Homo sapiens: one gene and its partner. The protein of the gene in region 1 interacts with the protein of each later gene in a biochemical or structural test. Each region holds a gene or a part of one and is shown on either strand. Other genes may lie near its edges. The genes, in order: MTPN and REL.

Region 1 (11,230 bases):
TAGGTATATGAACAGTATGATCAGACTGGCATTTGAGAAAGAACACCCAAACATGTAGAGTCTGAATTAGAGTTGTGTAATAAAAAAGGCCGGGCGCAGTGGCTCACGCCTGTGATCCCAGCATTTTGGGACGCTAAGGTGGGCGGATCACAAGGTCAGGAGATCGAGGCCAGCCTGGCTAACACAGTGAAACCCTATCTCTACTAAAAATACAAAAAAATTTAGTCAGGCATGGTGGTATGCACCTGTAATCCCAGCTACTCGGGAGGCTGAGGCAGGAGAATTGCTTGAACCCAAGAGGCGGAGGTTGCAGTGAGCCGAGGTTGTGCCACTGCACTCCAGCCTGGGTGACAGAGCGAGACTCCATCTCAAAAAAAAAAAAAGAAAGAAATCATTGCATCCAAATGTTTATACCTGAACTAAAAAAGTGATGGTAGCAATGGAGAACCAAGGACAGATGGGAAATCTTAATAGTATGGTCTGAAGACTTAAGTAAACAAGAACTGCATACTGTCTCCACATCTTCTGGAAGATGGTAGTGTTCTTCACCTTGTTGGAGAATATTGAAAAAGGAGCAAGGTTTATAGGAAAAGATTACAGATTCATTTTGGGAGAGGTTGAATTCAAGGTATTTATGGAACTTAAAGTAGGTAAGTCTGAAAGCCAGTCCTCAGAATGAGGACAATAAAGGTTGGACATGGATGAGATGATTAGGAAGAGCACGTTGAGCAAGTTATAAAGAGTGTTAAAGACCTGAATCCTGTATAAAGGACAGCCAGAGAAAGTAAAGGAAGGCAGGGGAGAGTAGAAGGAGTTGGTGTGGGAGGGAGAGGCAGGCTAGACAGGAGAATGTGGAGATAATACTGTCTTGAGAGTTAGGACCATAATGAGTTAGGAATATCACTGTTCAGATACTATATATGTTGACTAGACTTGGCATTTACAGGACGTTAGTGACTTATTTCAAAGTGTTTTCAGAACAGTATAGGTCAGGTTGCAAATTGTCTGTCATGTCTGATTTTTCCTTGTGCTTTAGAAAGAAAACCCTAGGTTGTAGTTGTCCACATGGCAGCCTAGGTAATCCTTGTGTCTCAGCTTTCCTTGCAGTAATTATGGCTGTGTGTCTAACTAACTTTTAGGCTACTGGGATATGCACAAATGATGTGTGTCACTTCCAAATCATTACAAAATATGAAGCCACTTGCTGTGGACTTTTCTCCTTATCTAGAAGGCTAGAAGCAGCTGTAGGACGAGCCAGCTCCAGACATATGGGTGAGGAGTGTACCCATGGGAGATCAACAGAATGGAAGGAACTTAGGTCCTTAGATGACCTTAAGGACAGAGCCACCCTGCCAACCTATGTGCTTGGCACTAAGACTGTTTTATAAGCAAGAAATAAATTAACTTAGTTCAATTCATTGTGTTTTAGTTTCTCTCTGTGGTAGCAATTTACCTTAAGAGTAACAGATTGGTTCATGAATTAGTCTGTTCTTACACTGCTATAGAGAACTACCTGAGACTGAGTGATTTATGAAGAGAAGAGGTTTAATTCACTCACAGTTCCTCACGCTGTACAAGAGGCATGGCTGGGGAGGCCTCAGGAAACTTAACAATCCTGGCAGGAGGCAAAGGGGAAGCAGTCATATCTTCTCATGGTGGCAGGAGAGAGTGTGAAGGGGGAGGTGCTACACACTTTTAAGCAACCAGGTCTCATGAGAACTCTACTCTATCACAAGACAGCACAAGGGGGTGAGGGGTGGTGCCAAACCATTAGCACCCGTGATCCAGTCACCTCCCACCAGGCCCCACCTCCAACATTGGGAATTATAGTTTGACTTGAGATTTGGGTGGGGACACAGAGCCAAACCATTTTAATTCATTAGTTTGTGGGACTGGGGAAAACTCAGGCTGTTACTGTAAGTGTTACCTTCTGATTCAGTCATTTGTGAGGATTGCATAGGGTTGCAATATTGGAACAACAGAGAGAAAATGACTAGTCATATTAGTCTGCTAGGTGCCACCAAGAGCAGTATTTACCTAGAAATAATTTGAACATCACTTACTTAACTATAAGAATTGATAAAAACACAGTTTTTACAGACCAGAATATAAAAGTTAATCTTGACAAAATAGAAAAGCTGGCAAATTAGGAGGTGGAGGGAGTGATGGGAAGGTTGAGAAAGTATCTTATAAAATTACTTCATGAGAATTGATGGAACAAGAAATACAGGTTTAAATAAATATCGTTTACATTTATAAAGAACAAAATATTTTAAGTATAAGAAATTGAGAAGGTCTGGGGAAGGGTGGTAGTGGTGAGCTAAAGGCCTATGTATGTAGCAGGAAGTCGAAAGATAAAATCTAAAGTTATAGCTCAAATATCAGCATGAGTATATTATTTAAAGCTATGCAAATAATTAAAAACAATTAAAAAATGGTTTCTTCAAGGAAGGGATAGGGCCAAATATACTTAAATTCTTCAGTTACTTCAAAACTGGTTCATCTTTTTTTTTTTTTTTTTTTTTTTTGAGGCTGAGTGAGTCTTGCTCAGTTGCCCAAGCTGGAGTGCAGCATCACGATCTCATCTCAGCTCACTGCAACCTCCGCCTCCTGGGTTCAAGTGATTCTCATGCCTTAGCCTCCGAAGTAGCTAGGATTACAGGCGTGTGCCATCACATGAGGCTAATTTTTATGTTTTTAGTAGAGATGGGGTTTTGCCATGTTGGCCGGGCTGGTCTCTAACTCCTGGCCTCAGGTGATCCACCTGCCTAGGCCTCCCAGAGTGCTGGGATTACAGCTGTGAGCCACTGCGCCTGGCCCTAAATTTATTCTTCAGTATTGTATCCCTTTTGATGGTATTACAAATGAAATTTTTAAATTACATGTTTGAATTGTGAACCTTTTATCATTATGAAATGTCCCTCTTTGTCTCTAGTAATTTTTTTTATCTTAAGGCTTCTTTTGTCTGATATAAATATAGTCACTCTACTTCTAATTACTCAACTATTTTTAAAGAAGTATATATGTATATATATTTAGAATAGAAGAGTAGAAGGAAACACTAAGATGTTAACATTAGTTGTATCTAATGTATAGAATTACGAGTTTTCTGCGATAAGTTTGCATCATAATTAGGAAAAAGGTGACATATACATTTTAAAAATATTTTATCTAAATACTTCTGGTTGCAAATAGCAGAGATAGTCAACAAGCAGAAAAGGAATTTTTGAAAAGATGACTGGCCTAGTTGCAGAATCAACAGGAAAAGCTGGGCACCAGGTTGAGAAGAGATTGAGCTGTGGCAACTGCAGGGCTCTGGGTAGCAGGAACTTGTCAGCTTTTTCATCGAGGTGGTGCCCCAGAAATGAGTTCTAACTTCTTATATTCTCTTTTGATCTCTTCAATCAGGATTCAAAATCTAGGAGAGAGTATTCCGCTTTCAAATCTTTGAAATTTGGTGAGGAAAATAAGCATCTCGGTTTTATAATCCCAGGACTATAGAGGACCCTGGGAATGGTTAAGGGGAACAGAAATACAGTTACAATGAATATGATCTAGTATTTGGTAGCACAACAGGGCTACAGTAAATTGTTAACTGTTGTGAACAACTTACTGTTCACATTTGTTAACAATTTACTGTGTAATTTAAAATAAGTAAAAGAGCAGAATTAGAATGTTCTAACACAAAGAAATGATAAGGGCCCTGATTTGATCATTACATATTGTATGCCTGTATCAAAACATCACATACCCCATCTATATATATAACTGTTATGTACCCATAATAATTAAGAATTAAAATTTTAAAAAGCAAGAGGGGACAAATGATTCCCCAAGATGAAATTAGGGTGCTGCCATCAAATGGAGGGAAATAAACTCTGAGAGCTAAAAAGCAACAGAAGTTCACTATAATATGTAACTGTTAATGCAGAATTATAGTTGATAATGCTAGTCATAAAAGTAGCCATCAAAATGAATAAGAAATAACTTTTTTGAATACAGTTATCCCTTAACCATTGTGGCGGGACTCACAGCACTGAAGTTCTCACGCACTGACGTCTCTCCCACTTGACCCTGAATTCCATGTCTTCCATGAAGCAGTTAAATTCATTTAGAAAATGAGGAAATAGAGACTTTTATAATAATACTGAGGAGGACTTTGTGATCATTTAACACTTCCTAAAATGTCATCTCCTCCCTGGTTTACCTAATCAGCCTGTACTTCCTTGTCAAGACTCAGCTCAGGCATTTTACCTCATCCCGGAAGACTTTCTCCCTTAAAACGCCCTCCTGCCACATCCTGTTCTGATTATGGGCCACTCATCCCTGTTACTGTTCTCTTCCCATAGTGTTGTGTTGGCTGAGTTGTCTGACTCTCATACCAGCCAGACTGGCAGACTCTTGTCTTATTTTTCTTTGATTCTCCAGTCCTTTACACAGTATGCGCATATTAAACATTCAGTAAATATTTGTTGAGTGAATGGGTGGATTTGCCAGAGAAGAGGATAAGGCATCCCATCTAGAGCCCGCATGGATAAAGGCATGAAACACAGCAGGAACTGGTGAGAAATTCTGTAGGATTAGAGCATGGAGCGGTTAACTGGAGAAGAGACTGGTAAAGCTGACCAGCGTTAGCCTCTAAAGGACCATATGTGCCAAGTTTAAACAATTCTGTAGGTGTCAGGAACAAGCAGAAGAATGTGTGAGATTTGGCAAGGGGAGTGGGTCAGGACTCTAGAGAATGTGTGGTGAATAAATACTGGCTGGAGCTAGAGCTGGTAAACAGAACCCTCAGATGGTAGGATGTTGTCTCTGGGAGTTAAGAATCAGACCTGGTTTGGGAGCAGATTAACCTACCATGCACCTAGGCACTTTTCCAAGTGCTGGAGTACAGTGGTGAATTACTGCTCCCATGGAGCTTTCATCCAGAAAGGGTAGACAGATGAAACAACATACAGGCACAAAAGGGCACATACACACTCTCAAAACCAGAATGCCGCGTTGCAGATAAAATGTTCCAAGGCAGCACTCTCCAAGTTAAGCGTTCAGAGCAGTCTGGTGTCTGCACTGAATATTTCCCTACAATATCGCAGGGAACCTTCTTATAGTCCGCATCTCAGGCATTTACTGCGAAGTTTTTACAAGTAAAATGACGAATACAGTATTTGTTCTTGATGTATATAATACTGAATGCACTCTACAAAAAGTGTTTCAAATAAGAAAAAAATAATTTGTCACAGGAATACTTTAGCAAAGTGATTTACTTTTTCCCCGTTTCATACTGCACATAGGGATATTATTTTTAAAGCCTAATTAGATAAATATATCTAACTTGCTCAACGTGCTCTTCCTAATCATCTCATCCATGATAGTATAAATAAAAGCCAGTGATTGCCTGGGTTACAATTCTTAGTGCCTGAAAAATAATGTGGCATTTTTATAATTAATCCATAATGTTGCCAACTTGTTTGTTTTTCTGCAGTAGAATAGACTCCACTAGTAAAGGAATTTTTAATTCTTGATGTAAACATTAACCTGTGCCATGTGAGCTAGTCTTACATTCCCTTCCCCCAGTTGTGGGCTCATTTAATGAGCCCTTTCCTCTCTTTTCCAGGGTGCTGATAAGACTGTGAAAGGCCCAGATGGACTGACCGCCTTTGAAGCCACTGACAACCAGGCAATCAAAGCTCTTCTCCAGTGATGGATGGATGGACTGATAACTCCGGAAGAATGACTCTCCTGTGGCCTCACACTGCTGCCTGTCTGTCTGTCACTCTCTATCTGCCAGCTTCTTCAGCTAAATACTTTAAGAGGGGTGAGGGGAGAGAGAAATTCATAACAAATCCGACTACCAGAAAAAAAAAATTGTTTTGGAGGAGGGGCAAAAGGAACCATGATCAGGCTTTTACTGGGATTCCTGATCAAGTAAGCCTCTTCCCTTTCTAATAAAATATACACCTTATACCCAAGGGAGAGCAAAGACAAAATACACCAGTAACATTTGACCTTTTCAGCTCCCTAGCTAATTTATTAGATTGTGTTGAAGGTCTGATTCTACAAAGGCCAACTCTACATATTTGGTAGCCCTAACTGTCTGAGCAGTAGTGGCTGCTGTGATGTAAACTTAGGGTGCTGAGATAAGCAATTAGCTCTAGCCTTCTGCCTTAAGAATGCACTCTACTGGGGATTTCCTGGCATAGTTAAGAGCGCTGCCTATAAGGTTGGTGACCAAATCTTTCCTCGGTGACTTTAAGCTTTATGTGAAAGCTTAGTTAAGGTGAGGAGGGGCACACTCCTAAATTGCTGGATGACTGAACTTTGGATTTTCTCTCCCCTTTCACATGGATTTCATGTCTCTTTAGATAAAACTGACTAGTTTTATTTATAAAATCTTAAGTTTTGGAAGTCTAAAGGAGAAACCATTCCAGTATGCATATTTTTTTCTCCTCTAGATTCATACATTTATATAGCATTGAAACACTTTCAAACTCCTGCTGGTAGTAAAAGGGGATTTAAAAATAGAATCATAGCCATAAGCCTGTTAGTATCATATGAAGAGAGAACAGTTATCTTAGTACCTATGGATTTTCTTTATTTGCTGTTTGAATGGATTGACCTTGGTTATGTGTTGAGAATTAAGGAACATTCTTTGAAATGCCTCTCTCAGACCCATCTTGGAGGCTGATTACTTACTGCACCAAAGCTATCACTGGGGTGAGATTTACTGTTTGGACAAATTTAGCCCCATCCCTTCAAAAATACACTTGTAACCAGGTTTCCCAGAGTTGTTGATAGGCTTCTGCTGAACATATGCCAACCCACCTGCATAATATATTTTTGTTGCTTTTATAAATCATGCATTACATAAAGTGTGACAACTTCAAAATGTATTCTCTGTTCTTGGAATACAGTGCCCTAAAATGGTGTTCTTATGACCTGCAGAAAATATTTACACATATTTCCAAATATTTATTTCATGAGCAGTACAGCTAATTAAAATATATAAGCTTAAATTTTATATCTTACATTTAAAATATTAAGATTCCTTTGACTTGCCATCCATATAAGCTTGCTAAAAATATTAAGACCAAGTCATGCAATAATTGAATGTACCTCAAATTTTTAGGGGAGGGTGGGTTAGGGACTGATACTCAGATTGTGGATAATAATTGAATTGGTTTTTAAAGGCAACATAGCATTCTACAGCAGGGTTAATCTATTATCAAGAACAGTCACCCTGGTTAATAACAAGTTTTACTGATCAGTTGCTGGTTGGTTGGTTGGTTGGCATGTGGGTGTGTGGGTGTATAGGTGTGTGTGGGTGTGTGTGTGTATTTTTCCCCATGAGTCCTTTTTTTAATCCTGTGGCTTTTTCACTTACAACTAGCCTAACCCTGTAATTTTCCTACATCCAAGAAAACAATCACAAAGTAGTGGTTTAAATACTTTGTTGTATTTGGCTAATTTTGCTGTCTTAATGCAGCCTATTAAGAGTTGGGTTAAAAATCAGTAATCAGTACTTTATTACATCACTGAACTAAAATATGGAGACATCCTCATTGAAAATGGAGGGCACTCTATCAGTCTATAACTATCAACGTAGTGCAACAGGGTGTTTTGATACCTTTGTTTTCACCTCTTGACATAATGCTATTTAAAGGCTTGAATTTTTCCCTTTATATAATTTTCACCTTTACTTTCAAAGTGTTTTGTTGTAGTTGGCTATTGCAGAGAGTGCATTGTCCTATCATTCCTAAACCTGGTCTGCTTTCTACATTCATGGTATGGAAACCATGTGATTCTTTGTACAGTTTATCCTGATGTTGCTTGTAATGCAGTAGAGGCTATTTCGCCTTCGCTTTTCTTTCTCGACCTTTTTGTAAACCCTATAATTATGAAGCGATTGCTTGAGAAAATAACATATAAACATAGAATAGAATAGACTGACCAAGATGGTTCACAGTTTCTTTTTTTAACTAGGTTATTTATAATGTATTTCTGAACCACTTGGCAGACAAATTCACAACACTTAATGTTCATATTTTGAGTAAAGGAAGCTAAAACCATGTTTGCTTTCTGGTACTACATGCATTAGCGAAAGGTTAAGTAAGTTTTGTTCTCCACTGAAGTAATACTTAACATCTCAGAAAAAATTTTGCATGTTCTGTAGTTTTGTATTAAATCAGTCATTTCATATGCACTATATCAAGTACAAACAGGTAGTTTACCTGTTTATAGTAGTGTACTAACAAAGTCTCCCTTGCAGCTTCAGACTGTTATCTATAGGCTTATCGTTCAAATACAGCACTTGAATATCCCAAGTAGTTCTTCTACGCATAGCTCACCTTTCTAAACCCAGTTAAGCATGGAAGAGAGGTAGTAGGTAGGTGCAGTGTGTGGAAGCTGCAAACAAGTAGGCCTTTTATTCATTGATATCTTTTCCCAAGTACTGGATTTTAAATCTGTATGTATCTGTTTGATTTTTTTTTCTAATATTTCAGTTGAGCTGCTGTTTTCTTCCATGCAATATTGTATACTCAATTGTGTATAGAAGAAGCTGGTGAGAGTGCCCTCCTACATAAATAAGCAATTGCAGTGTTTTGCATGCAAAATATAAAAAATTTAAATTGTCCTGATTCTATTTTGTAAATGGAGAAACAATCATATCTTTCTAAGCGGTAATGGAGGAAGACTAGTGCTTTGTGCATTTTGATATATTTGAGTTCATTTTTTCCACAATGTCATACTTTTGACGCAGTTGGGTTTCTCATAAGTATCCTAGTTCATGTACATCCGAATGCTAAATAATACTGTGTTTTAAGTTTTGTGTTGCAAGAACAAATGGAATAAACTTGAATTGTGCTACAGCTAATGTGTCAGCAGCATTTTTCTCAGTTATTATCACCTTCCTTTTGTAGTCATCTCTACAACTATACCAGAAGCTTGATTGACTCAAACATTTAGTTAATCTTATCCCACTTCTAGAAAAAAATGAGTGGAGGGAAAATAAAACATAAAGATTTAATTGAAATAAACCTTACCAGTCTTTGAAAGGATTTGCTTTTGTGTCAGTCTCCTGACATTGTTTTACTGTAACTTCAGTAACGCTCCTGGTTGACGGGGAGCAGGGTGTAGCCAGCACATCCCAGATCGTCAGGATCTTCAGGGGGCTTGAAGAAAATGGAGTCGTGGTTAAACCTCTGATCCTTTCATTGCTCATCTAAGTTGCTCCACATTTCTTGGAGATCTGCATTTCCCAAACTCAACTACGAGCACTTTTTTAGAGTGTAATTTTCAGGATGAGTGATCACTTTGAACCTTAAAACTGAACAAAATTAAATACAAAATCAGTTTGATTGTGTTGTAATCTTGTTAGCACCAGAAGACTATTGCAGTTTACTTTTAGTGATAGAAAAAAAATATATATGTGCAGATACTAAGTTACAGCAAAAGCTGTATTTTAGAACTTTCACATTGTTGACTGAAGTATAAATGGGGACCATGTACGGCTTTAGGTGGAAGTGATTACAGAAATTTTTTTAAGTTCTCATTTTAAGAATTGGAATCTAGGACCGGCGCAGTGGCTCACGCCTGTAATCCCAGCACTTTGGGAGGCTGAGGCAAGGAAGATCACTTGAGCCCAGGAGTTCGAGACCAACCTGGGCAACAGAGGGAGACTGAGTCTCTACAAAAAATTAAAAAACAATTAGCTGGGTATGGTGGCAAGTGCCTGTAGACCCAGCTACTTGGGAGGCTGAGGTGGGAGGATTGCTTGAGACTGAGAGGTTTGAGGCTACAGTGAGTGAGCTGTGTTTGTGCCACTGCACTCCAGTCTAGGCGACAAAGCGAGACCCACTCTGAAAAAAAGAATTGGGGTCTGTAAAGAAAGTTTAAATCTGGTTAAATACATTTTAAAGGGAATAGAGTCCCCTTATATAATGATTGAAGAACAGACCAGCATATGTGGATGGAAGGCACACACCTGGTGGAAAGAAGGAGCTTAGAGGGAAATTAGTTTGCCATTAGAGAATAGCTGTCATAGGACTTTTCATGCAGCACAGTATACCAGACCACCATAAGATTTTTTTTTTTCTCTTTCTGTAGCATCAGTGATTCTCAAAATGTGGTCTCTACACCAACAGCATTGCCATAACCTGGAAGCTTGATAAAAATGCAAGCTTTTGGACGCTAGCCAAGACCTACTGAATCAAACTCGGGCTGGACCCAACAGTCTATGTTGTAACAAGCCCTCTAGGTGATTCTGATGCGTGCTGAAGTTTGAGGACCATTGAATAAGACCATAAGAGCAAGAAACAGTCAAATAGCCTATAAATAGATGCCATCAGGCATGACTTCCTAAAGAGAAAGTAAATGGAAGCCTTTAACATGTGAAATGTAGCAAAACTGGCCAAGTTTTGAAGCTCCAGATGTCCAGGAAAATCTTTAAAAATGAGTTTCAAAGGTATATTCTGGCCAAAAGAAGTCAGGGTGAAATGTAACAATGGTTCCAAAGGTGTAATACTGGTGAAAATGACCCTTAGTTATTCTTAGGAGGTTTTTCCGCCTTATGTCCCCAAAGCTGGATTCCTGAGACTCAAGCCTTACCCTTACCTTACCTTTCCTTGAATTCCAAAGTAAAGTGGAAGGTGGAAGCCAGGCACAGTGGCTCACGCCTGTAATCCCAGCACTATGGGAGGCCAAGGTGGGCAGATCACTTCAGGTCAGGAGTTTGAGACCAGCCTGGCCAACATGGGAAAACCCCATCTCTACCAATAATACAAAAATTAGTTGGGTGTGATGGCGCACGCAGCTCCTTGGGAGGGTGAGGCACAAGAATCGCTTGAACCCAGGAGGCAGAGGTTGCAGTGAGCCGAGATCGCACCACTGCACTCCAGCCTGGGCAACAGAATGAAACTGTCTCAGAAAAAAAAAAAAGTGGAGGGCTGGGAGAGACATGTAAAGAATTCTTGGGACCTATGACATGAACTGCAGTCTCATGCTTTTTATATGCAGGTCATTGTGGGGTGCAGGACTGGCAGGCAGAGCCACTCTGGGAGGAAGTCAAAGGCTGCTTTCTCAGCCCAATGCCCCGTTTGCTGTCACAGTGTGCTGTGAAGATGGATTCCCCACTGCAGTGGGTGTGCTGCTGGCTTGGAAACAGCAGCCTTGGGGTGGCCAGGTTCCCTGGAGTGGAGTGTCCCAATTTCTCTGCACAGTGGAGTGGCTTTTG
Region 2 (12,240 bases), on another chromosome or scaffold:
ACATAAACTACATAACGGAAGACAGGTAACTCAGATAATGGGGGTATCAAAGACGAAATTTGGCCATTTATCTAGAATTATCTGAGGGAGAACCCCAATGAATCCAACAGATACAATCACTCTGGTTATTAGAGTAGTGTAAGAATCACAGTCATACGTGCTGACTTATTCAGAGGGCAAAGTACCAGTGTCTGCAACTTATTTTGAAATACATTTTTAAAAACCAGATAGATGAATGGATAGACAGAGGGATGGAAAAATAAACAGACAGGTGATAAGGCAAGTGCAGCAAAATGTTAATGGTGGAATCTAGTTAGTGGGTATACATATGTTCCCGGAAAAAAAATCTTTCAGTTTGGCTGTATATTTGAATTTTTTTTTTTTTTTTTTTTGAGACGGGTCTTTCTCTGTTGCCCAGGCTGGAATGCAGTGCCAGGATCATGGCTCACTATAGCCTTGACCTTCTGGGCTTAGCTGGAACCACAGGTATGTGTCACCACACCTGGCTAATTAAAAAAAAAAAAATCTTTTGTAGAGATGGTGTCTCATTTTGTTGTCCAGGCTGGTCTTGAACTCCTGGATCAAGCGATCCTCCCACCTTGGCATCCCAAAGTGCTAGGATTACAGGCATGAGCCACCATGCCTGGCCCCAAACATTTTTATGATAAAACAGGAAAAAAACCTGCCAACATTTCTGAGGGCTTTCCCTGTGTCAGGCACTTTGTATTAGTGATCTCAATTAGCCCTCACAAGAAGCCTGTGAGGTAGGTACCATATTACTACCCCTATTTTACAGATAAGCAAACAGGCACAGAGAGGCTAAGGGACTTGCCCAGAGTCTCACAGCTAACAATCTAGGACAAGCTAAGATTCAAATCCAGGCCTGTGTGTTTGCAAAGCCAGGGCCTTTAGCTGTGAAACACAGAGAATTCCGCAGATGTTTTTCAGAGCCTCCATTAAATATTACTGAGTATTATAAAACTTCTAGAACATAGGAAAATATTTTCATAACCTCAGTCCAAGAAGAGTTCTCTAACATTCACAAAAAACACTATCAAAGAAAATAAATCAGACTTAATTAACACTAAGTTAAAAAGCTTCACTAAGATAATGAAAAGGCAAGCCACAGACTAGGAGAGGATACTTGCAATGCATATATTTTATAACAATTCTGTGGCATCCATAGAGGTGCTCTGCTCAGATCTCCATTCTAGAGAGGATCTGCCTCAGCTTTCAAGCCAAAGCCACATATTTCCTTGGAGCCACCTACCCAATTATTAAGTACAGAGGTAGTATAAGGGCTAACTATCTCTGTGCACAGTGTTTGTGTTAGAGCTCCCCATTGGATTTACTGAGACTTCCTCAAAGATGCACTCCCATCTCATTTTCTTTCTACCAAATTTACCTTCCTTCCCCCTTTCTTTTCACCAGTGTCAGACCTGCATCTTAAGATTTTCCCTGCCTATAACTTTTTTCTTTCCCCTTTATCTTTCATAGATGTTACCCCCAATAAATCTCTTGCACTGTTAATTTCATATTGGTACTTGCTTCCCAAAGGACCCAACTGGTATACTCATATCCAGAATACATAAAGAATGTCTACAAATCAATAAGAAAAAGATAGATAATCCAATTTTTTTTTTTTTTTGAGATGTTTTCTCGCTCTGTCCCCCGGCTGGAGTGTAGTGGTGTGATCTTGGCTCACTGCAATCTCTGCCTCCCAGGTTCAAGCGATTCTCCTGCCTCAGCCTTCTGAGCAGCTGGGATTACATGTGCGTGCCATCATGCCCAGCTAATTTTTGTATTTTTAGTAGAGACGGGGTTTCACCATGTTGGTCAGACTGGTCTCGAACTACTGACCTCGTGATCTGCCCACCTCGCCCTCCCAAAGTGCTGGGATTACAAGCGTGAGCCACCGCGTCTGGCCCCATTTTCTTTTCTAATGTGCAAAAGACTCAAACAGGTACTCTGCAAAGGAGGAGAGCCAAATGACTAGTACATTTGTAAAAAGGTGTTCAGTATCTTGGCCAGGCACAGTGGCTCACGCCTGTAATCCCAGCACTTTGTTAGGCAGAGCGGGGTGGATCACGAGGTCAGGAGTTGGAGACCAGCCTAGCCAATATGGTGAAACTCCGTCTCTTCTAAAAAAAAAAAAAAAATACAACCGGGCGCAGTGGCTCACGCCTGTAAGCCCAGCACTTTGGGAGGCCAAGGCAGGCGGATCACCTGAGGTCGGGAGTTTGAGACTAGTCTGACCAACACGGAGAAACCCCGTCTCTATTAACAATACAAAAATAAAATAAAATAAGACAAAACAAAAATACACAAATTAGCCGTGCACAGTGGGCTTGCCTGTAGTCCTAGTTACTTGGGAGGCTGAGGCAGAAGAATCGCTTGAACCTGAGAGGTGAAGGTTCCAGTGAGCCGAGATTGCGCCACTGTACTCCAGCCTGGGCGATAAAGCAAGACTCCGTCTCAAAAAAAAAAAAAAAAGAAAGAAAGGAAAGGAGTTCAGCATCTCTAGTTATCAGGGAAATGTATATAAAAACCACAAGAAGGTACTGCTACACCTCCATCAGACTGGCTAAAATTAAAAGGACAATACCAAGTGTTGGTGAAACAAATGGAATTATCTTAAGTTTTGTTGTTGTTGTTGTTGTTGTTTTTTAGAAGGAGTTTCACTCTTGTTGCCCAGGCTGGAGTGGAGTGCAGTGGTGCAATCTCAGCTCACTGGAACCTCCGCCTCCCGGGTTCAAGCGATTCTCCTGCCTCACCCTCCCAAGTAGCTGGGATTACAGGCATGCGCCACCATGCCGGGCTAATTTTGTATCTTTAGTAGAGACAGGATTTCTCCATGTTGGTCAGGCTGGTCTCGAACTCCCGACCTCCGGTGATCCACCTGCCTCGGCCTCCCAAAGTGCTGGGATTACAGGCGTGAGCCACCGTGTCCGTCCGGCCTCTTAAGTTTTTTTGTGGGAGTATAATTTGGTACAACAACCCTGGAAAACTGGCAGTGTCTACTAAAACTAACATGTATTTACCATATGATCCAGCAGTACTACTCTTGGGTGTATATCAACAGAAATAAGTGCTTATAACCACCAAAAGATGGACAACTATGTGGACACAACTCAAATATTTATCAACAGTAGACTGGATAAATAAAATGTGCTATATTCATACAATGGATTTCTCCCCAATAATGAAAAAGAATGTACTACTGTCACACAGTACGGACATGACACATACAATTGTTAAGTGAGAAAGTCATACTTAAAAGAGTATACACTGTATGAATCCATTCATATCAAGTTCAAAAACAGATACAACTAATTATTGTCAAGGAGGTCAGAATATCGGGTGCCTTTTGGGGGTGGATATTGACTAGAAGCAGCTCCGAGGCAGCCTTCTGAGTGGCTGGCTAGAAGCGTTCTGTATCTTAATCCGGGTAGTGGGTTACAAAGACTCTCCTTGATGACACTCTGAAGAGGCTTCTCTGAGCCCTGTTCTCCACTAGGCTTCAGCCTTGGCCTGTAACTACTGCAGATACTGAGCACACATTATTTTATCCATGCCCCACACTAACAGACCTAAACAAATACTAGCATGCCCCTAGGATGATGACTTCGGTCACCTTTAGTTACTGCCTGGGAAAGCTCAAGAATGCCAAAATAATATATGTTTGTTCCAGTTCTATGAACCTATGGTGACCACAACGTTTGATTTTATTCTGAAACTGTTGTTAACTGTATCCATTCAATTTAATGATGGGTGTCTTGTTCTTTCAACAACAAAAAAATATCTTATGGAGCAATTTCACTTTTGACCCCTCACTCTTACTTTTTCATATTCTGCGATCACAGACTCAGAACACATCCATTTGCTAATCAGATTTGTTTCTTTCCTGGAGGATTGTGACTTTTTAACTGCTGCATCATTAAAAAATTTTTTTTCATATGTTTAAGGTAAGTTCTTTAGCATCAACAGTTCTAAAGGTTCTAAAGGTTCTCTGCCCTTTCAGATCAGTGCCCACTGTTTTATAACATATATTTGTAACATCCCCTTTAGTAGGTTGAAGTGAAATTCATAATCTACCTTACATGAATATTTTCAAATAAATAAAAATTATGTTCTAACAGCAATATCAAGAATTAAAAAGAAAGCAATTTCTAGGAAAATAATATCGACTACAGTATGTAAATGCTTGGGCATAACTACATCAAAAGACATAATGGGGCCAGATGCAGTGGCTCATGCCTATAATCCCGGCACTTTGGGAGGCTGAGGCGGGAAGATCATTTGAGCCCAGGAGTTCGAGACCAGCCTGGGCAACATAGCAAGACCCCGTCTCTTAAAAAAAAAAGACATAATGGGTTGGGTGTGGTAGCACGGGCATGTAGTCCCAGCTGTTTGGGAGGATGAGGTAGGAGGATAGCTTGAGCCCAGGAGGTGGAGGCTGCAGTGAGCTGTGTTCATGCCAGTGCATTCCAGCCTTGGTGACAGAGCAAGACCCTGTCTCCAAAAAAAAAAAAAAGACATAATGAAGTTGCCAGATGTTTGTACTTGTACCTAGAATCAGTGTGAATGCAAGTGCTGCAAATGCAGCCTGATACTACTGTGGTTTTTTGTTTGTTTGTTTTCTGAGACACAGTCTTGCTCTGTCATCCAGGCTAGAATGCAATGGTGTGATCTCGGCTCACTGCAACCTCCACCTCCCCAGTTCTAGCGATTCTCGTGCCTCAGCCTCTCAAGTAGCTGGGATTACAGGAGCACACCACTACGCCCAGCTAATTTTTGTATTTTTAGTAGCGACAGGGTTTCACCATGTTGCCCAGGCTGGTGTTGAACTCCTGACCTCAGGTAATCCACCCGCCTCGGCCTCCCAAAGTTCTGGGATTACAGGTGTGAGCCACCACAGCTGGCATACTGTGTTGTATTGATGAGCTGTCAGAGTTACAATTTTCCAACTTTTAAAACATTTTTTAATAAAAGTCTGCCCTCAATTTATACAATATTTGCATTCCTGGGAAATTCAGTATATATTAAAAACCATACAAAAATATTTTATATCTATATATGAAAGGGAGTTGTGTTCTAACCATATATTATTAAAATAGGCATTTCAACTACATGAAAGTGAATGTTTGATGAGACGTTTGAAGGTCATGAGGATGAGGGACAATTCTTGACTGTGCTCTTTCCTATCTCAAGGACCTGCTGCCTGCTGTTCCCCCAGCTGGAATGTTCTTTCCCTGAATCTCCCTGTGAATGGCCTTTTTTTTTTTTTTTTTTTTTTTCTGAGACGGAGTCTCGCTCTGTCGCCCAGGCTGGAGTGCAAGTGGCATGATCTCGGCTCACCGCAACCTCCGCCTCCCAGGTTCAAGCAATTCTCTACCTCAGCCTCCTGAGTAGCTGGGGTTACAGGCGCCCGCCACCACGCCTGGCTAATTTTTGTATTTTTAGTAGAGACGGGGTTTCACCATCTTGGCCAGACTGGTCTTGAACTCCCAACCTCGTGATCCACTTGCCTCAGCCTCCCAAAGTGCTGGGATTACAGGCATGAGCCACTGCGCCTGGCCGGCTCTTTCTTAAACTGAGGACTCAGCTCAAATGTCACCTCCTCAGAACTTTCCTCTCCCCCAGTCACTTTTCATTTTGAAATTCCTTCAGAGAACTGAAAATGTTTTCCGTCTCTTTGAAATGTATGTACATATTTTAAAAAGCTAAATAAGCCTCTTGCTAGTTTTGCGTCCTCAGAAGGTCTTTCTTGCGGGCCTCGGAGCCATCTCTTGGAAATGTGAACATCAAGGATGGTGCTCCATGTTTCTGTCTCTAGGAGGGTTTAAGCCTTGGCTCTTGGTTCCAAGATAACTTCCCATTATTTTCCTTTGGATAAAGACAATTAATAGGTATGTAATGGATTGTACGTGCCTGACCATATGAAAAGGTGAGATTTCCTTTTTTTTGGTCTTTGCACTCTCTTCAGTGGATTGCCTGTGATGTGCATCATGGTACGTTTTAGTACATATCCAATAATAAAACTGTTTCATTCTTTTGTTGTACATTGCGCATTTCGTGGAAAGAACAGTTTGGGGTTGGCAGGATATTTTAAATTATTTGCCCATATGGGTCCCCCAGTTTTGGGCACTTGTATGGCAGGCTGATATTCCCCATTACCTCTCCGTACTAATTTTAACTAGTAAGGGACAGGGGCAAGGGCATGGAGCTTTGGAGTCAGACAACCCTGGCTTTAAACTGTGCCTTTTATCAGCATTCTGAAGTACTGTATGTTGAAGTAACTTCTCTGAACCCCGAATACTTCATCTATAAAGTTAGGAATAATAAATACGTCATAGATTAAGTATGGACATTATCTGATGCATAGCAGGTACTATTCAAATGAAGGAAACGAAGTTATCCTAGGTCCTTTAATGCACTAAATGTGTGCTCCATTTCCGCCTTTCTTGGCATCTGTGTGAAATCTCAGGATATAGTGTCCACTAAACTTCAGTGCACTGCCTAATGAGACAACGAACTCCAAGTGCGGACCTTTTGAGTTTAAACGGGTTTCAGTAGGTAAAATACGTAAAGTTCACAGTACCCTCGCAATTTAGATGGAGGAAAAAAAATCAGTCGGGGGGGGGGTCCCCGTATGCAAATACAGGAATTACAGAAGAAGACAGGACCCCCGCCGCAGCACCACTTCCCCCTACAGGGCGCAACGTCCCGCCGCTGGCGCGGGGGTGGAGATTTGCATGTGCGAAGTCGGGAAGAGGGGGAACCACCTCTCGAAAACCCCGGCCGTCGCCCTCCCAGGCCGGGAGAGTCGGCCCCGCGCGCCCCCAAAAGCTCCCCAGCGGCCGGCCCTCTCTACGTCATCCGCACCCTCCCGCCCGCTCCTGAACTTTAAACCACACTCGGAAGAACAACCTGGAGGAGGGGGATTTCTCAGGAGCCAGCGGCCTTCTCACGCTGCTAGCCGTCACCTCCCGGCTCCCGCCGTTCCCTGCGCTCCCGAAGCCCACCCCAAGCTCCCGCTCCCTCGACCCCCTCCCAAGCCAGCCGCCGCAGCAGCGCCGGGGGCGTATGCGTGGGGGCCGGCGGGGAGCGTGCGCGGGGACAGGCAGGGGCGGGGCGCTGGGGGCGGTCGCGCGCGCGGCGGCCGCGAGGTCGCCCCGCCCACGCCTCCGGGTGAGGGTTGCTGCGTCGGGCCTACGTCAGCCGCGGGAAATTCCCCTCCCGCCAGGCTGCTCGCCTCTCGGCTGGGCCAGCACTCGGCTCTCCCCGCTCCGCCCCCTGCCCCTGGCTCCCGTACGGTGGACGGCGACGCTGGGTGACCCGGGGTGCAAGAATTCAGGGGTTGGGAAGGTGTGAGCCGCAAACCCAGCGGAGGGCGGGAAGAAGGAGGAGGCCTCTAGGGTGGTCGGGGGACTGGGGGCCCCGCCGGCAGAGGTCCCTCGGCCTCCTGACTGACTGACTGCGGCCGCCTCCGGCCAGGACGCTGGGAGCTGCCTGCGGGAAGGTGCGGGGAGCGGAGCCATGGCCTCCGGTGAGTGTTCATGGGGCGCGGGCCTGGGCCGGGGGAAAGGAGCTCTTCTGAAGGGGGTCCTGCCGCAGTGAGTTTAGGGAGCTCAGTTTTTGCTGGGGCGCGTTCTGTCTTTAAAATCTCATATGGTAAAATTGTCAGCTTTTAAAAAAGTTACCTGCTTCAGGGTTTGCGTGCAGAATCCAAGCCACGCTCTGTAATTCGATCCTGTTGTCATAGCAGGAACCTTAGAAATTCCCAACGACTTGATTTTAGGATTAGGGAAGTCATAAGCGAACCAAAGGAGGACGAAGAGTTCTCATTAAAAATGTATATGTATTGAAGATGGTGGTTTTATGTTTTAGAACAGGAATGAGGAACCTTCAGACCTCGGGCAAGCTCTCTCCCCCTTTTTAGTTTAATTTCATCAAATGCAAAGAGGTGATCCCCCTTGTACTGACAGTTGTACAAAATGTGTCACGGCTTTAAAAATCATCCGTGGTATTTTAACACGAATTAGAAAATCCGTGGTATTTTAAGTGTTAATGTTGCTTCGACCAAGTGTAGGCCGGGCGCGGTGGCTCATGCCTGTATTCCCAGCACTTTGGGAGGCCGAGGCGGGTGGATAACCAGAGGTCAGGAGTTTGAGACCAGCCTGGCAAACATGGTGAAACCCCGTCTCTACTAAAAATACAAAAATCAGCGGGGCGTGGTGGCGCGCGCCTGTAATCCCAGCTACTCGGGAAGCTGAGGCAGGAGAATCGCTTGAACCTGGGAGGTGGAGGTTGCAGTGAGCCGAGATCGCGCCCCTGCACTCCAGCCTGGGCGACAGAGGGAGACCCTGTCTCTATTTAAAAAAAAAAAAAATGTAGTTTTTACTGTGAGATAAAGCTCAAGGTTCCTAATCTGACGAATAGAGACGTTGAATCCCCCTTCCTCCTCGCTGGAAATAAGGGGAAAGAGGAGTTTTAGAATATCCGAGCTTTAAAATAATGAGTAGGAATGAATACAACTTTATCACTTATGTGACTATATATTTTCCCTTAATAAATGCTCGATCTCTCCCTTTGGGGGGGAATAAGTTTGTAAGAAACATTGCAGAGCAAGAAAGTCTCCTATATACACAGATGTGGTTGGGGCTGCCTGGAGCTTAAGGTTGAGGGGGACGGGAGAGCCGGGGCGGGGGGATAAATCAAGTAGCCTGGGGTCGAGTTGGTCTTTTACCAGGATTTTGGCAAGGTGAGTGGGGGACACTTTCCAGACAGAGGAAGCAGCGTGAGCAAAGGCAGGGAGGGCTAAATGCATGTTAAATGCTGTACTAAGAGAATGAAGAGGGGGCCCCGTTTATGAACTTGACTCTTATCCCCAAACTGCCTGGTCCAGTGACCCTCAGAAGTAGGCTGATGTCTAGTAGAGATGAGGAAGTAGGAAGCTTAAAGAACCTTTTTAAAAGGTTGAGCAGAACAATGCCATAGCTATTGCTGTAGGCAGAAAAGGAAATTGGGGTGTTTCACATGACATTTGATTTCAGTTTGTTTGTGGTTGTGAGAATACTAAGTGTAGTTTAAAATATTTCAACTTTCCCTTTTCCCACTTAAGTGACACCAGACTTTCAGATAATCGTGTAAATTTATGAATTCAAAGCATGTGTAGATTAGAAGTGCTAAGATGACTTCAAATATTTTGTTAATGTATTGGTTATCAGAAAGATTTTGTTTGGAAGTAATGGAGAATGCCTAGCATTATAAGTAAGTTCAGGCTCTTGGCGATTTAATCAAACTTTATTGATATATTGCATGAATTTAATACTTCTAATTTTTTCAGTTGAGAGAGGAAACAACCATTTCTATATAGAGTATTGTAAGACCCACAGGATTTTAAAATTTGATACAATTTAAATTTGTTCATTGACACTGTATTTTGTGCTGTTGTGAGGAGGAAGGATTCCCTAAAAGTAAGGAGGAAATGTTTAAAGAAATGGAAAGTTTTAAAGGTTTAGAAGTTGAAGGGTGATTAACTTTTTTTTTTTTTTTTTTGGTCTTTTCTAAGAGTTGCATTAAAATGGGACTATTTAAAATGTAACAAGTTATTTAAATTGTAATTCAGTTGTTAGAAAACTGCCAGGCCTGGAATAAAAAAAAAAAAATGTTTACAGGAATCTGTGTACTTTTCCTTAATCTGTTATAAAGACCTTAGAGAAAGAAAAAGATTCACTAATAAAATTCTAAATTCCTATTCTGTTTTGAAACAGTAATTTAACCGGAAGAGTGACCAAAAAAAAAAAAAAAAAGAAATTGCTTAGTTTTTCATTGTCTAGTTTAGATTCTGTTTGTAGTAAGGTAGTATTAAAACCTCAGAAAGTAACTTTTATTCATTACGAAGTATTTAAGAGCATTTCTTCATTTCTTACCAGATGTCATATGTAAATAGGTATATGTAGTTGAATATGTGATAGCTATAATGTAAAAGTAACATAAATCATAATCTTATAAGCAAAATTATGTAAGTTAGAATGTAGTTTAAAATCATGTATATAATATGATTCTAAATTTTGTTTAGATAAGTTAGCAGATTAATTAGGATTTCACAGCTTGTATTAAGCTGCCTTTCGTTGCTTTTTAAAAAAATTACACCTTGATCACAGTCTTTTGACATAATTAATAATAGATATAGTGAAGAAAAATGTTCCCAAACCCATCTAAGGTATGCATAGTAGGCAGTTGTTGCTTTTGTATATTTATTCTATTTAATATAAGTAAAATTAGATATTTTATGTCTGAATTTAAACCTTCTCATTGTTCCAGTAAAAAGAGCAAAATGTCTTTGTGTGGCATATAGCTCTGTTAACTAATAATTAGTGCTGTCTTTGGTAAAATGTTTTAAAATTTAGATAATTTATTTTTCTTCACATTTTTCTTAGTATGGTTCTTCTGTGTCACACAATAGGAAGGAAGTACAGAAATGAATTGTTTTTGTAAACCTCACTTCTTACCAACTATTTGTAGTGTGAATTTCAAGAGAATTGTTGTTTTTCTCGATTAAAGGGGAGAAATGGAAGTAAGTGTGAGGCAACTTAATCTTTAATAACAGAGCTGGAAGTTAGGAATGGATAGCTACAGTAAATGACTTCTTTTTTTAAGTAAAATGCCACACATGAGCATGAATGTTTCAGAAATGCAACACATGAAAAAATAGAAATAACAATGGAGTTAAATAATTAAGGTGACGTATGATAGGCACAGATAAAGGGAATGAGTTAATGTAATGACTAGGGAGGAGCCAGACAATGAATCATAATTAGGAACATCTAGGTTATGCATAGTATCTTTCTCAAATACAATTTAAGGGACTCAGAATTTCATTTTGTTCCAACTTTCTCTCATATGGGTTCTCTGAAAATGATTTTGTTTGTAGGCACATGACCCAAATATTGCATGGGATAAAATTGTTTTTCTGAAATTCATATTTATCTGGGCCTCCTCTGTTTTTATTTTTAAAACAGAGGTGATTTGGTCTTGCCATTTGTTTTTAACTTTAATACCTGTATAATCTAGGACAGCTTTTAAAATTTATTTATTTTACCCTGGCACGTGCAAGAGTTTTTTCAAGACTTACCTTTTTTCCCCCTTGGTAACAGAATCCCTATTGCCAGAATCTTTTACAGTTTTTACCTTGTAGTGCATAAATCAGTTGAATACTCATCTGAAAATTTCCTTTCTTTGATTCTTAAGGCCCAGTTGAAAGTCAGCCTGATGTATTGGAGTAATAAAGTCAGCCTGATATATTGGCATAGCCTTTGGCTGATGAGAGACCTAGTTTGAGGAAAAAAATAATAGATCTTATTTTCTTTTTCTCCAAATTGAGTAGAGGTGATATTTGGAAAAATATATATTGTTAGCTCCATTGGCTCCTTTAGGTCTCAGGCAAAGTCTGTCACCGAGGACCTTTATGAGAGACATGCAGTCTAGTCAGCTATTCTCAACTGTGGTGTTGACACACTGGTGTGACAATCATTTGTGTGATGTGTTGCAAGAGTTAAAATATTTGTGTTGTAAATTATTTACTTTTTAAATAAATGAAAGCATTTGAAGGTTATCTCTATATTGTCATTTTTTCTTGCTTGCATTTGAATAAGGTTCTTTTTTAAGTGGGAGATAAACACAAGTTCAAGTTACAAGTAGCCAGAATTGCTTTGCCTAATTTACTCACGTCCCAGTCCATATTTGTACCTGAATTTTTAGATTACTTCTCTCAATATGTGCATTGTTGCTTCCACTTCATGTTTTAAGACAATTATTCTTAATCAGGAGTGTGTTAGAATTTCTTGGAAGGCTTTTTCAGCAACGTGTATCTGGGCTTTAAAAACTATGAAGATTTCTTTATCTTCTAAACATCTCAAGTGGGGTAAGGACATGTATGTTTTGAAAAAACTACCTAGGTGATTCTGATGTACATCCCCAGTATGAACTCTGTTCTAGGGATTTCTTTGGATCTAAATACTCATTTGGCTATACCAGGATGCATTATCTTCTTAAATTAAGTTGCATTTATTTTAGATTGCAGATTATGTGCTGTATCAGTTATTACCTCCAGTTGCTTTTATGCTTGTTTTTTAAATTTGGCACTGCCATATTAGCATACCATTCATAATTCATTTTTATTATAACTTCATATAATTTTCAACTTTAGTTTTATCATGTGTAAGATGGGATAAT

Evidence for each region.
Region 2: the proteins of MTPN (region 1) and REL form a complex in vitro, tested with the Homo sapiens proteins (one study listed by BioGRID).

Annotation. Positions count from the first base shown.
Region 1 is NC_000007.14:135,924,397-135,935,626, reverse strand, and holds the end of MTPN (myotrophin), read left to right. Parts: intron 1-5,614; coding exon 5,615-5,701; 3' UTR 5,702-8,867; downstream 8,868-11,230. UniProt on the Homo sapiens protein: Promotes dimerization of NF-kappa-B subunits and regulates NF-kappa-B transcription factor activity. Plays a role in the regulation of the growth of actin filaments.
Region 2 is NC_000002.12:60,874,302-60,886,541, forward strand, and holds the start of REL (proto-oncogene c-Rel), read left to right. Parts: upstream 1-7,272; 5' UTR 7,273-7,539; coding exon 7,540-7,549; intron 7,550-12,240. UniProt on the Homo sapiens protein: Proto-oncogene that may play a role in differentiation and lymphopoiesis.